Linked DNA regions of Homo sapiens. The protein of the gene in region 3 purifies or fractionates together with the protein of the main gene of each other region. This does not show direct contact. Each region holds a gene or a part of one and is shown on either strand. Other genes may lie near its edges.

The links.
Region 1: the proteins of ZNF565 (region 3) and IPO7 purify together in Homo sapiens (co-immunoprecipitation; one large-scale study listed by IntAct). This does not show direct contact.
Region 2: the proteins of ZNF565 (region 3) and IPO8 purify together in Homo sapiens (co-immunoprecipitation; one large-scale study listed by IntAct). This does not show direct contact.

The regions. Positions count from the first base shown.
Region 1 is NC_000011.10:9,391,130-9,394,798, reverse strand, and holds part of IPO7 (importin-7), read right to left. Parts: intron 1-3,669. UniProt on the Homo sapiens protein: Functions in nuclear protein import, either by acting as autonomous nuclear transport receptor or as an adapter-like protein in association with the importin-beta subunit KPNB1.
Region 2 is NC_000012.12:30,664,723-30,668,391, reverse strand, and holds part of IPO8 (importin-8), read left to right. Parts: intron 1-2,140; coding exon 2,141-2,217; intron 2,218-2,546; coding exon 2,547-2,663; intron 2,664-3,082; coding exon 3,083-3,172; intron 3,173-3,669. UniProt on the Homo sapiens protein: Involved in nuclear protein import, either by acting as autonomous nuclear transport receptor or as an adapter-like protein in association with the importin-beta subunit KPNB1.
Region 3 is NC_000019.10:36,194,144-36,197,812, forward strand, and holds part of ZNF565 (zinc finger protein 565), read right to left. Parts: intron 1,014-3,669; coding exon 887-1,013; intron 186-886; coding exon 90-185; intron 1-89. UniProt on the Homo sapiens protein: May be involved in transcriptional regulation.

The DNA.
Region 1 (3,669 bases), on a different chromosome or scaffold from region 3:
CTTACTAGTACTGACAATGCGCCAGACACTATGGAGAAAAAAAGATCAGTATGAAGTTATGTTGGGAGTTTAATTCCAATTGGGCTAATAAGTAAAATTTCAAGTTAGAACCTAAGGGACGTAAACTCAGAAATCAGAGAAGACTTTGAACAGTGAAAGATAAAAATGAATTGGTAGGTTGTGGCCAAAAAATTTAAAGAGTATGAATTTTTTGTGAAGGGTTATACATGATCAGATTTATGCTATAGGAAAATGAGTTCTTGAAGCACTGTGAAGAATGTAATGAAGAATGTAATTCAAGGAATGATGACTATAAAACATGAATGAAAAACTATTAGTACAACAGGTAGTAGCAACAGGCCTCAAAAACCTAGGCCCCTATTCTACTATACAGCCAAGCTTCCCTGCTGCTTTCTCTGCCACCCAAAATAAGCTCAACTTTAAAAAATAGAAAAAGAAAAACGCACACTCTCACATCAACGAATTTCCCAATATGGCCACCCTTTTAACTTACAATCTTATCCCTGCCCCCTTACTAGCATTCCACTCACTAACACTGTAATCAGAAATTGCTTTCCCCTCTGACTGCGTGGAAAATTAATAATAATTTTAAAAATTAAAAGGCTGGGGGCGATGGTTCACGCCTGCAATCCCAGCACTTTGGGAGGCCGAGGAGGGCGGATCACGAAGTCAAGAGATGGAGACCATCCTGGCCAACATGGTGGAACCCATCTCTAAAAATACAAAAATTAGCTGGGCGTGGTGGCGCACGCTTGTAGTCCCAGCTACTTGGGAGGCTGAGGCAGGATAATCACTTGAACCTGGGAGGCAGAAGTTGCAGTGAGCCGAGATAGCACCACTGCACTACAGCTGGGAGACAGAGAGAGACTGTCTCAAAAAAATAAAAAAATTAAAAGAAAAAAATTAGAAATTACTTTTCCAAGGTTACTGATACTTTAATGCATTTTCCCAGAAAGTCTTCAGTTTGTTTAACCTCTCTCATTTAGGAGTATCAACACCCCTTTCTTTTTTCTAAAAATTTTTTACTCATTTTCAAAAGTAATTCATGCTCTTTGGTAGAGAATTTATTAAATCTATGTAAGAAAAAGGAAATTAGGCCTGGTGTGGTGGCTCACGCCTGTAATCCCAACACTTTGGGAGGCCGAGGAGGGTGGATCACCTGAGGTCAGGACTTCGAGACCAGCCTGGCCAACGTGATGAAACTCCTTCTCTACTAAAAATATAAAAAAATTAGCCGGACGTGGTGGTGGTTGCCTTGTTATCCCAGCTACTAGGGAGGCTGAGGCAGGAGAACTGCTTGAACCCAGGAGACGGAGGTTGCAGTGAGCTGTCACTGTGCCACTGCACTCCAGCCTGGGCAACAGTGAGACTCCGTCTCAAGAAAAAAAGAAAAAGAAAAAGGAAACTAACCACTAACCACAAGCAACCTTCTTAAAATTATCTTTCTTGGCTTCTCTCTTACTTTTATGCCCAAAATCTCCAGTCTGCTTTTTCAGATGTTTATCAAAGTACCCAAAATAGGCATGGTTGAAAGTTTAGCCCTCTAGTCCATCCCATACCTTTGGATCATACTACTGTAATCACCTGCCTGCAGAAGAATATCACTTTTCCATTGCTGCTTTCTCTCCTAAACTTCAGCTCCACATTCCAATTGCCTGCTAGACTTTTTCTACTTGATGTTTACCAGCTCCTCAAACTAGACACTCTGTATGTAACTCATGTCTTCAAAATCAGTTTTCCCTCTGGACCCACATTTTCCAATGTAATCACTAATGTCAGTATCTTTTAAAACATACTCTTCAAACCCGTAACTTTTTTTTTTTTTTTTTTTGAGACAGAGTCTTGCTGTCGCCCAGGCTAGAGTGCAGTGGAGCAATCTTGGCTCACTTCAGCCACTGCCTCCCAGGTTCAAGCGGTTCTCATACCTCAGCCTCCTGAGTAGCTGGGATTACAGGCACGCAACACCATGCCCGGCTAATTTTTGTATTTTTAGTAGAGACAGGGTTTTGCCATGTTGACCAGGCTGGTCTTAAACGCCTGACCTCAGATGATCCACCCACCTTGGCCTCCCAAAGTGCTGGGATAACAGGCCTGAGCCACCGCACCCGGCCAAAACTGTAACTTTGTATTATTTCTCTCCATTGAAATATAACCAAAGAGACTTTCAATTAGCTACTATACTTCAGACCATTTTTAAGGAACACAGGAGGTAGAAGAATCCCGTGCTATCAGATTTTTACATTAAATACAACCAGGTAATTTCAAGAGCCAAGGAACTTCTAACCTTTCTTGTTACTAAAGCATTTGACAAGCCGGGCACAGTGGCTCACACCTGTAATCCCAGCACTTAGGGAGACCAAGGTGGGCGGATCTCGGGAGTTCGAGACCAGCCTACCAACATGGAGAAACCCCGTCTCTACTAAAAATACAAAATTAGCCGGACGTGGTAATGCATACCTGTAATCCCAGCTACTCAAGAGGCTGAGGCAGGAGAATTGCCCGAATCCGGGAGGCGGAGGTTGTGGCGAGCCGAGATTGTGCCATTGCACTCCAGTCTGGGCAACAAGAGCGAAACTCCGTCTCAAAAAAAAAAAAAAAAAAAAAAAGAATTTGACAAAGGCAAATATGACATCTACCTTGGCTACATGAAATATAAGGCATAGTGAGGTTAAGTCATTATAGTCGTAGACTCAGGACAAGGCTAAGGCTCTTCACTGCGTCCCTCTGCCTTTGTTAAAAAAACAGTAATAAGCCAAGTGCAGTGACTCGCACCTGTAATTCTAGCACTTGGGAGTCAAGGCTGGGCAACAAAGACAGACCTCGTCTCTACAAAAAATAAAAAACTTAGGCAGGTGTGGTGGTGCACGCCTGTAGTCCCAGCTAGTTGGGAGGCTAAGGCAGGAGGATAGCTTAATCCCAGGAGAGTCAAGGCTGCCGTGAGCCATGTTCATACTACTGCACTCCAGCCTGGGTAACAGTGTGAAACCCTGTCTCAAAAAATAATAACAATAAAAATAATTTTAAAATATTATTTTTATGCTTTCCAACTAGGAAGTTTTATGTTATTTTATTTTTTAAGATGGAGTCTTGCTGTCGCCCAGGCTGGAGTGCAGTGGTGTGATCTCTGCTCACCGCAAGCTCTGCCTCCCAGGTTCATGCCATTCTGCCTCAGCCTCCTGAGTAGGTGGAACTACAGGCACCCACCACCATGCCCAGCTAATTTTCTGTATTTTTAGTAGAAATGGGGTTTCACCATGTTAGCCAGGATGGTCTCGATCTCCTGACCTCATGATCCACCCACCTCAGCCTCCCAAAGTGCTGGGATTACAGGCGTGAGCCACCATGCCCGGCCAGAACTTTTATTTTATTTTTCTTTTTTTGAGGCAGAGTCTTGCACTGTTGCCCGGGCTGGAATGCAATGACGTGATCTTGGCTCACTGCACCTCCGCCTCCCGGGTTCAAGTGATTCTCCTGCCTCAGTCTCCCAAGTAGCTGGGATTACAGGCACCCACCACCACACCCGGCTAATTTTTCATATTTTCAGTAGAGACGGGGTTTCACTATGTTGATCAGGCTTGTCTCGAACTCCCGACCTTGTGATCCGCCCACCTCGGCCTCCCAAAGTGCTGGATTACAGGCGTGAGCCAC
Region 2 (3,669 bases), on a different chromosome or scaffold from region 3:
GAAGCAGTGCTTTCCCCTTAGTTGAGCCAGGTGTGTCTAGCTACGTAAGCTAAACCTACTGGTACAGATGCTAGTTTTTTGGGCTGTGTTTTTACAGAGCTTTGTGTTTATATTATTTGATTCAGTAAGTGAGGATCCTGTTTTCTCTTGGAGACAAAGTATCAGAAAAGCAAATCAATGAGAAACATTTATCATCTGCTTGATTTGTTATTTTTCTTTTGAAAATCATTATTCATATGTGTAACTTATTATTTCCCCTTTCTTATGCCTTTGTTTTTCTAGTTTGCTTTGAGTGATTAGCCAACCATTCTTCTCTCTCTCTCTCTCTCTCTTTTTTTTGTTCCAGTGACTCTCCCACCTCAGCCTCCAAGTAGTTGGGGCCACAGGCATGTGCCACCACACCTGGCTAATTATTTTTTGCAGAGACAGGGTCTCCCTGTATTTCCCAGGCTGGTTTCGAACTCCTGGCTTAAGTGATCCTCTTGCCTTGCAAGGCATTCTTTTAGTGTTTACTTCTTTCATAATACCTATGTGTTTTTGTGATGTACAGAGTATTTGTTTAGCTTTCAGAAAGTTACCATTATTTATATATTCTTCATATCTGATAAGATAGGTATACATACCCTAGTTTTTAGAAAATAAGAACTCTATGTCTGTTGATTAACAGTGGGAATTTACATTTTATTGTTTAAAAGCGGATATGGGTAACTCAAGACTGACTAGCTGAAGTGAGTTTTCTTTAATCGTTTCCTTCTGTAGACTGGAATGCAGTGGCTTTTATTTGATATGTGTATTTTACTTTTGGGTAACCATAGGGAAGAACAATTACTGCATTTTCTTTTTATATGTTTGGCACTTGCAATTATTTACGTGAAACAAAGCATTCCTATCTAAATGTATTGACTGATTAATAATAATGTTTTAGTTTATTCTTTTTATCTACTCTTTAACCAACATCTCCTCACTTCCCCCAATAATGTTTTTTGATTTGGTAAGAACTAACAAGAGCTCAGGCTTTGATGTTAAGATAGCGTGGGTGTGAATGCTGGTTTGGTCACTTACCTGCTGTGTGACTGTGGACAGGTTACTTAACCTCTCTAAAATTCAGTGCTTTCAGCTGTCAAACGGGTGATGATAATAGTGCTGGGAGGATTAAATGGGATAATACACATGAACTAACTGCTTAGCATAGAATACAAGATGCTTCTAAAACTGTAGCATACTGCTTGGCACAGAGTAAGTACAGTACTCCAAAAATGTTCTTATTATGTTTGTATTTTATATTTTGAGGTAGACTTAGATTTGGTTTTATCTTTTGTATTTAAACAAGGACTTATCAGATACCTCTCAAGACTTCAGTTTCTTATGTAAAACTGCCTATTCTGAAACTTGTGAAAATGTTCATGGTATTAAGTGATATGTTAAGTTTTAGATAGGTATATATTCAACAAAACCTGCTGAACTTACGTATCGACAGAGCCAGGCATGGTCCTAGCAGTCCTTCAAGGCTTTTATACTTGCTGTTTCACCTGCTTGGAGTACTTTATCCATGGATTGCTTTCTCCCTCATTTCATTCAATTTCTGCTTAAATGTTACCTTAACAGAGTTGGAGAGGCTTTTGCTAACACCCTATTTAAACTAGCACCCCATACTCTGTCACTCTGTCTCTTTACCCTATTTTACATTTGTTCTTAGCCTGACTTATTATGTGTGTATATATGTATAATGTGTTTCTTTGTTTCACGACATAAGCTCCGTGAGAACCTTTTTGTTTGATCTTTGTATCCCCGGGGTCTAGAATGGTACCTGGCACATAGTAAGAGCTGAGTGAATTTTTGTTGTTTTTTGATAGAAATAAAGCACTTTTTCTGTTCTCAGTGAAACAGATGTGTAAATGCATTGTTTTCTTCAATATAATAGTTTGAAAGGACAACCTGTAGAGTTTGAGGAACATTGTTTTGTGCAGGAGACAGCAATGTTGTGGTGCCACTGTATATCCTTACCTTTTTAGTACTGTCAAGCAGTGTCATATGTGGATGGTTTTATTTTTTTGGTTTGGAATAGCGGTCAGTCAGGTTTAAAATCTAGAATAAGTAATTATATTTTCACTAACATGGTTTTAACCTTTTAAAATCTTAGATATTTTTGAAGATTATGCTTCTCCCACCACAGCAGCCCAGACTCTCTTATATACTGCTGCAAAGAAAAGAAAAGAGGTATTTCATTTTTCTTTTTAAATCCAAAACTGAAAGGTGGCCTGTGTTGAGTTGATACTCTAGTATATCCCTAGTATTTGAGAAATTATGTTGTTATTCGTTATAATTTGTCACCTTAAGGATTTTTTTTTTCCTCTCCTGGTGAGGGGAAAGGGGGTATCATGGTTATTTCGTTTTCTTAATAAATTATACTTTTCTTATTGAGCTTATAGTTGCTTGATAAAACATAATAAAATGGCTTTATTTTTAAAAATTTGTGCATCATAGTTAATACTATAGTAAGACAATGAAAGTTCATGTAGACTAAATGGATTCTTCTGTTTCTTTAGGTGTTGCCAAAAATGATGGCATTCTGTTATCAAATCCTGACAGACCCGAACTTTGACCCTAGGAAGAAAGATGGAGCCCTGCATGTGATTGGTTCCCTAGCTGAGATTTTACTGAAGGTTAAGATAATCAAAATTTAATTTACTTAATAACATTGTAAAGTACAGGCAAATGAGAGAATATGAAAGTTATGGCTAATTTAAAGCTGGTGACTACCTCTGGATAATTGAGTTCACAACTATCCTCCTTTCTGTCATCTATTTCTTTAATTAAAAAGAAAATTTGACTGTTTAAAGTTTTCAGTATGAAACTATTGATATGTGAAAGGGATACAAAGTATCTTATGTCTACAAAATCAATCAATATCAAACTGATATAAGGTAATATTTGTCTTGTTTTAAAACATGCAATATATAGGTCAAATAATTTTACAAAATTAGAAGTATATTAAATGCAAGTCATAGTAAACACACTTGATTAGGAAGTGATTCTTACGTATGAAAAAGAAATTGATAAGTTGAAATTTGTTTCCTAATAGAAGAGTTTATTCAAGGACCAAATGGAGCTGTTTCTACAAAATCATGTATTTCCATTATTATTGTCTAACCTGGGATATCTTCGAGCTAGAGTAAGTTTTTCATATTTCTGTTATGTATCTTAAATCTTCATAAGATAATTATTCAAATAAATGTTTTTTGGATAAATTGACCTTTTGCCACATATTGAGATGAAATAGAGTCAATTAGAATGTCTGCCTATGGTCACATCAGCTGAATAAAGGACAGACTATTAAAGAAAAAGATTTATAGGCTGGGCGCAGTGGCTCATGCCTGTAATCCCAGCACTTTGGGAGGCTGAGGTGGGCGGATCACTTGAGATCGGGAGTTTGAGACCAGCCTGGCCAACATGGTGAAACCCTGTCTCTACAAAAATACAAAAAATTAGCTGGGCTTCATGGCAGGCGCCTGTTATCCCAGCTACTAGGGAGGCTGAGCCAGGAGAATTGCTTGAACCCGGGAGGCGGAGGTTGCGGTGAGCTGAGATCGTGCCACTGCACTCCAGCCTGGACAACAGTGAGACCCTGTCTCAAAAAAAAAGGAAAATATTTATGGATTTTATTTCCTG
Region 3 (3,669 bases):
TTTGAGGGAACTTCCCACAGTAACTCAAGTTACTCCTGTCAGTCGACTCATCCAGGGACCTTCCCCTGTCGAAATCGGCCCTCGCTTACCTGGGCACCATGGTCCTGTCACATCATTTGCAATCATCCAGGGCTCTTTCCCTTGCTCCAATAAGGAGACGACATCAGGCTTAGAAATGGAGAGTCCTGTTTACAGGAAAAGAAATGGGGTGTGATCAGACCGCTCCAAAATCCAAACCCAGTTCCCTGGTCACCATGGAAAAGACGCAATTACAAGGTAGGTGGAAGGTTGTCCAAAGGATAGGAAGACCGAGCTGCCCAGCAGAATGACTTGTTTCTAGTTCCACAAAGCACAAAACAATTTTTCAGTCACCAGAAATTCAGTCAGAAACTTGTAAGTTGCCCTAGAAATTCATAATGAAGAAACCAGAAATTCCAGAAGGGTAGTCCTGAATTATGTGGAGTAAATGTGTGGTGATCACTCTCCATGAACCCCTCCTTCCCCTCCAATCTATTCCTTGATGCTCCTGGCCTTGTTCTGTGCCCAGCTCTGGGATCCCGACAGCTCACCGTAAGGACTGCATTACCCATGCCCTATGGCTTCTCATTGGCTTTGGCAGACAGAAAGCATCAGCTGGAGATCAGTGGACAGGAGGAGAGAGAGCACCAGGCATTTCTTACCCTCCTCTCTCCCTCCTTTGACCCAGGAGCTCTGGAAGTAGCTACAGCTATTGCTGGCCGGGCCTCTCTCTATGGCTGTAGTTTGTAGCGTCTCCTGTGACAGTTTCCTCTCCTCACCCATTTAGGCAGAGATGGAAACTGCACCCCATGGTTGTAGTCCCTGTTGCCTTGCTTTCCGTCTGGCCCGTGTGATACAATCTCCTTACCTAGTGAGGCCAAGTGACCAAAGTTCTCCAGAGTCACCTCCCTGTACAAGTCCCTCTGAGCAGGTTCCAGGCACTTCCATTCTTCCAGAGAGAACTCTATGGCCACGTCCCTGAATGTCACCAGTCCCTGAAACAATAAACCCACGCATTAGTGTACATTAAGAAACTTTTTTCATTTATTATGAAAATTTTCAAGATGCACAAAAGTACAGAGAATAGTTGACAGTAATGGCCCCCCGATATGCACCAGTCTGCTTCAACAGTTAACAAGGTGTACCCTGTTTTATCTCTTCCCTTCTATCTTTTATTCCCCATGTACTGTGAGGCAAATCCCACATGCCAAACATCATAATACTTCACCCACAGATACTTTAGTATCCAACAGATTATCAACAACTTCTCTTAGAAAAACACATAATAATCAGAATATCATTATCATACTTAATAAAAGTATCAATAATTTCCCAGTCAACAGATTAAATTCTAATTGCCCCAGTGTTCTCAATTTTTTTTCTTTTCTCTTTTTTTTTTTGAGACAGAGTTTTGCTCTTGTTGCCCAGGCTAGAGTGCAATGGCACGATCTCAGCTCACCACAACCTCCGCCTCCTGGGTTCAAGTGATTCTCCTGCCTCAGCCTCCCGAATAGCTGGGACCATAGGCGCGTGCCACTGTGCCCGGCTAATTTTTTGTATTTTTAGTAGAGAAGGGGTTTCATCATGTTGGTCAGGCTGGTCTCGATCTCCTGACCTCATGATCTGCACGCCTCAGCCTCCCAAAGTGCTGGGATTACATGCGTGAGCCCCGTGCCCAGCCCACCTGACCCATTTTAAATGAGGTTAAAATTGATGAGTAGGGTCAGGTTTTGACAAGCTAATTTATCCAGGAAATATCTTAATGAGAAGATGAAGAATTTTTTTTTTTTTTTGAGACAGAGTCTCGCTCTGTCACCCAGGTTGGAGTGCAGTGGCACGATCTTGGCTCACTGCAACCTCTTCCTCCTGGGTTCAAGCAATTCTTCTGCTTCAGCCTCCTGAGTAGCTGGGATTACAGGTGTGCGCCGCCACACTTGGCTAATTTTTATATTTTTAGTAGAGATGGGGTTTCACCATGTTAGTCAATCTTGAACTCCTGACCTCATGATACGCCCGCCTTGGCCTCCCAAAGTGTTGGGATGACAGGCGTGAGTCACTGCACCCAGCCTAATTTTGATTTTTAATATTTTGTTTGGTAGAGACAGAATCTCACTATGTTACCCAGGCTGGCCTCAAACTCCTGGTCTTAAGTGATCCTCCTGCCTCAGCCTCCCAAAGCACTGGGATTACAGGCCTGAGCCACTGCACTCGGCCAAGGACATTGGAGGAGATGAAGAAGGGTACTGGAGGAAGGAGGTAATGAAGCATGACAGAATCTACAGCTGCAGGCCTGTGGCATGAAGGAAGTATAATAAGCACAGTTATATGACTAGAGGTCTATATATTCTTGAGCATTCCTGTGGCTACACATAAACTATCTGCAGACAGCAGGACACTTCTATCTTCCATGGTCTGGGAATGATCAGGAAAGAGCTAAGTGGGGTCCCATAAATAAGCGAAATAGTGAAATACACAAAACACACAGCAAACCTGGGCCTGGCAAATCTAATGTCTTTCAAAAATGAGTCCAGGCTGGGCGTGGTGGCTTATGCCTGTAATCCCAGCACTTTGGGAGGCTGAGACGGGTTGATCACTTGAGGCCAGGAGTTCAAGACCAGCCTGCCAGCTGGGCACGGTGGTAATTCCAGCACTTTGGGAGGCTGAGGTGGGTGAATCACCTGAGGTCAGGAGTTCGAGAACAGCCTGGCCAACATGGCGAAATCCTGTCTCTACTAAATACAAAAAATTAGCTGCGCGTGGTGGCAGGTGCCTGTAATCCAGGTACTTGAGGGGCTGAGGCAGGAGAATTGCTTGAACCTGGGAGGCAGAGGTTGCAGTGTGCTGATTTGTGCCACCACACTCTAGCCTGGGCAACAAGAGTGAAACTCTGTTTAAAAAAAAAAAAAGAAGTCCAGCCTGGTCAACATGGCAAAACCCTGTCTCTACTAAAACTACAAAAAATTAGCCAGGCGTGGTAGTGCACACCTGTAATCCCAGCTACTTGGGAGGCTGAGGCAAGATAATAACTTGATCCCCGGAGGCAGAGGTTGCAGTGAGCTGAGATTGTGCTACTGCACTCCAGCCTGGGTGACAGAGCGAGACTCTGTCTCAAAAAAAACAAACAAACAACAACAACAACAACAAAACCCCCAAAAAAGAAATTAGCTGGGCATGATGGTGCGTGCCTGTAGTCCCAGCTACTAGGGAGGCTGAGGCAGGAGAATCGCTTGAACCCGCGAGGTGGAGGTTGCAGTGAGCTGAGATTGCGCCACTGCACTCCAGCCTGGGCGACAGAGCAAGACCCCATCTCAAAAACAATATAAATAAATAAATAAGAATGAAAGAAGGAAGAGAGAAGGAAGTTAGAAAGGAGGGCAGGCAGGCAGGCAGAAAGACAGAGACTGTTATTGGTTGCATAATATCGTATGTTATGTCTTGTAAGATACGTCGATTCCATTATTTTCGTGCACTTAGCTTAATTAAGATGTGTATGTTAAAGTGGCTTATATCTAAAAGAGAGGCAATAACAAATGCTAGTGAAGACGTGAACAGAAGGGAACCCTTGTACACTTTGTTGGGAATGTAAATCAGTAAAATCACTATGCAGAACAACTTGGAGGTTCCTCAAAAAACTAAAAATGGAGCTACCTT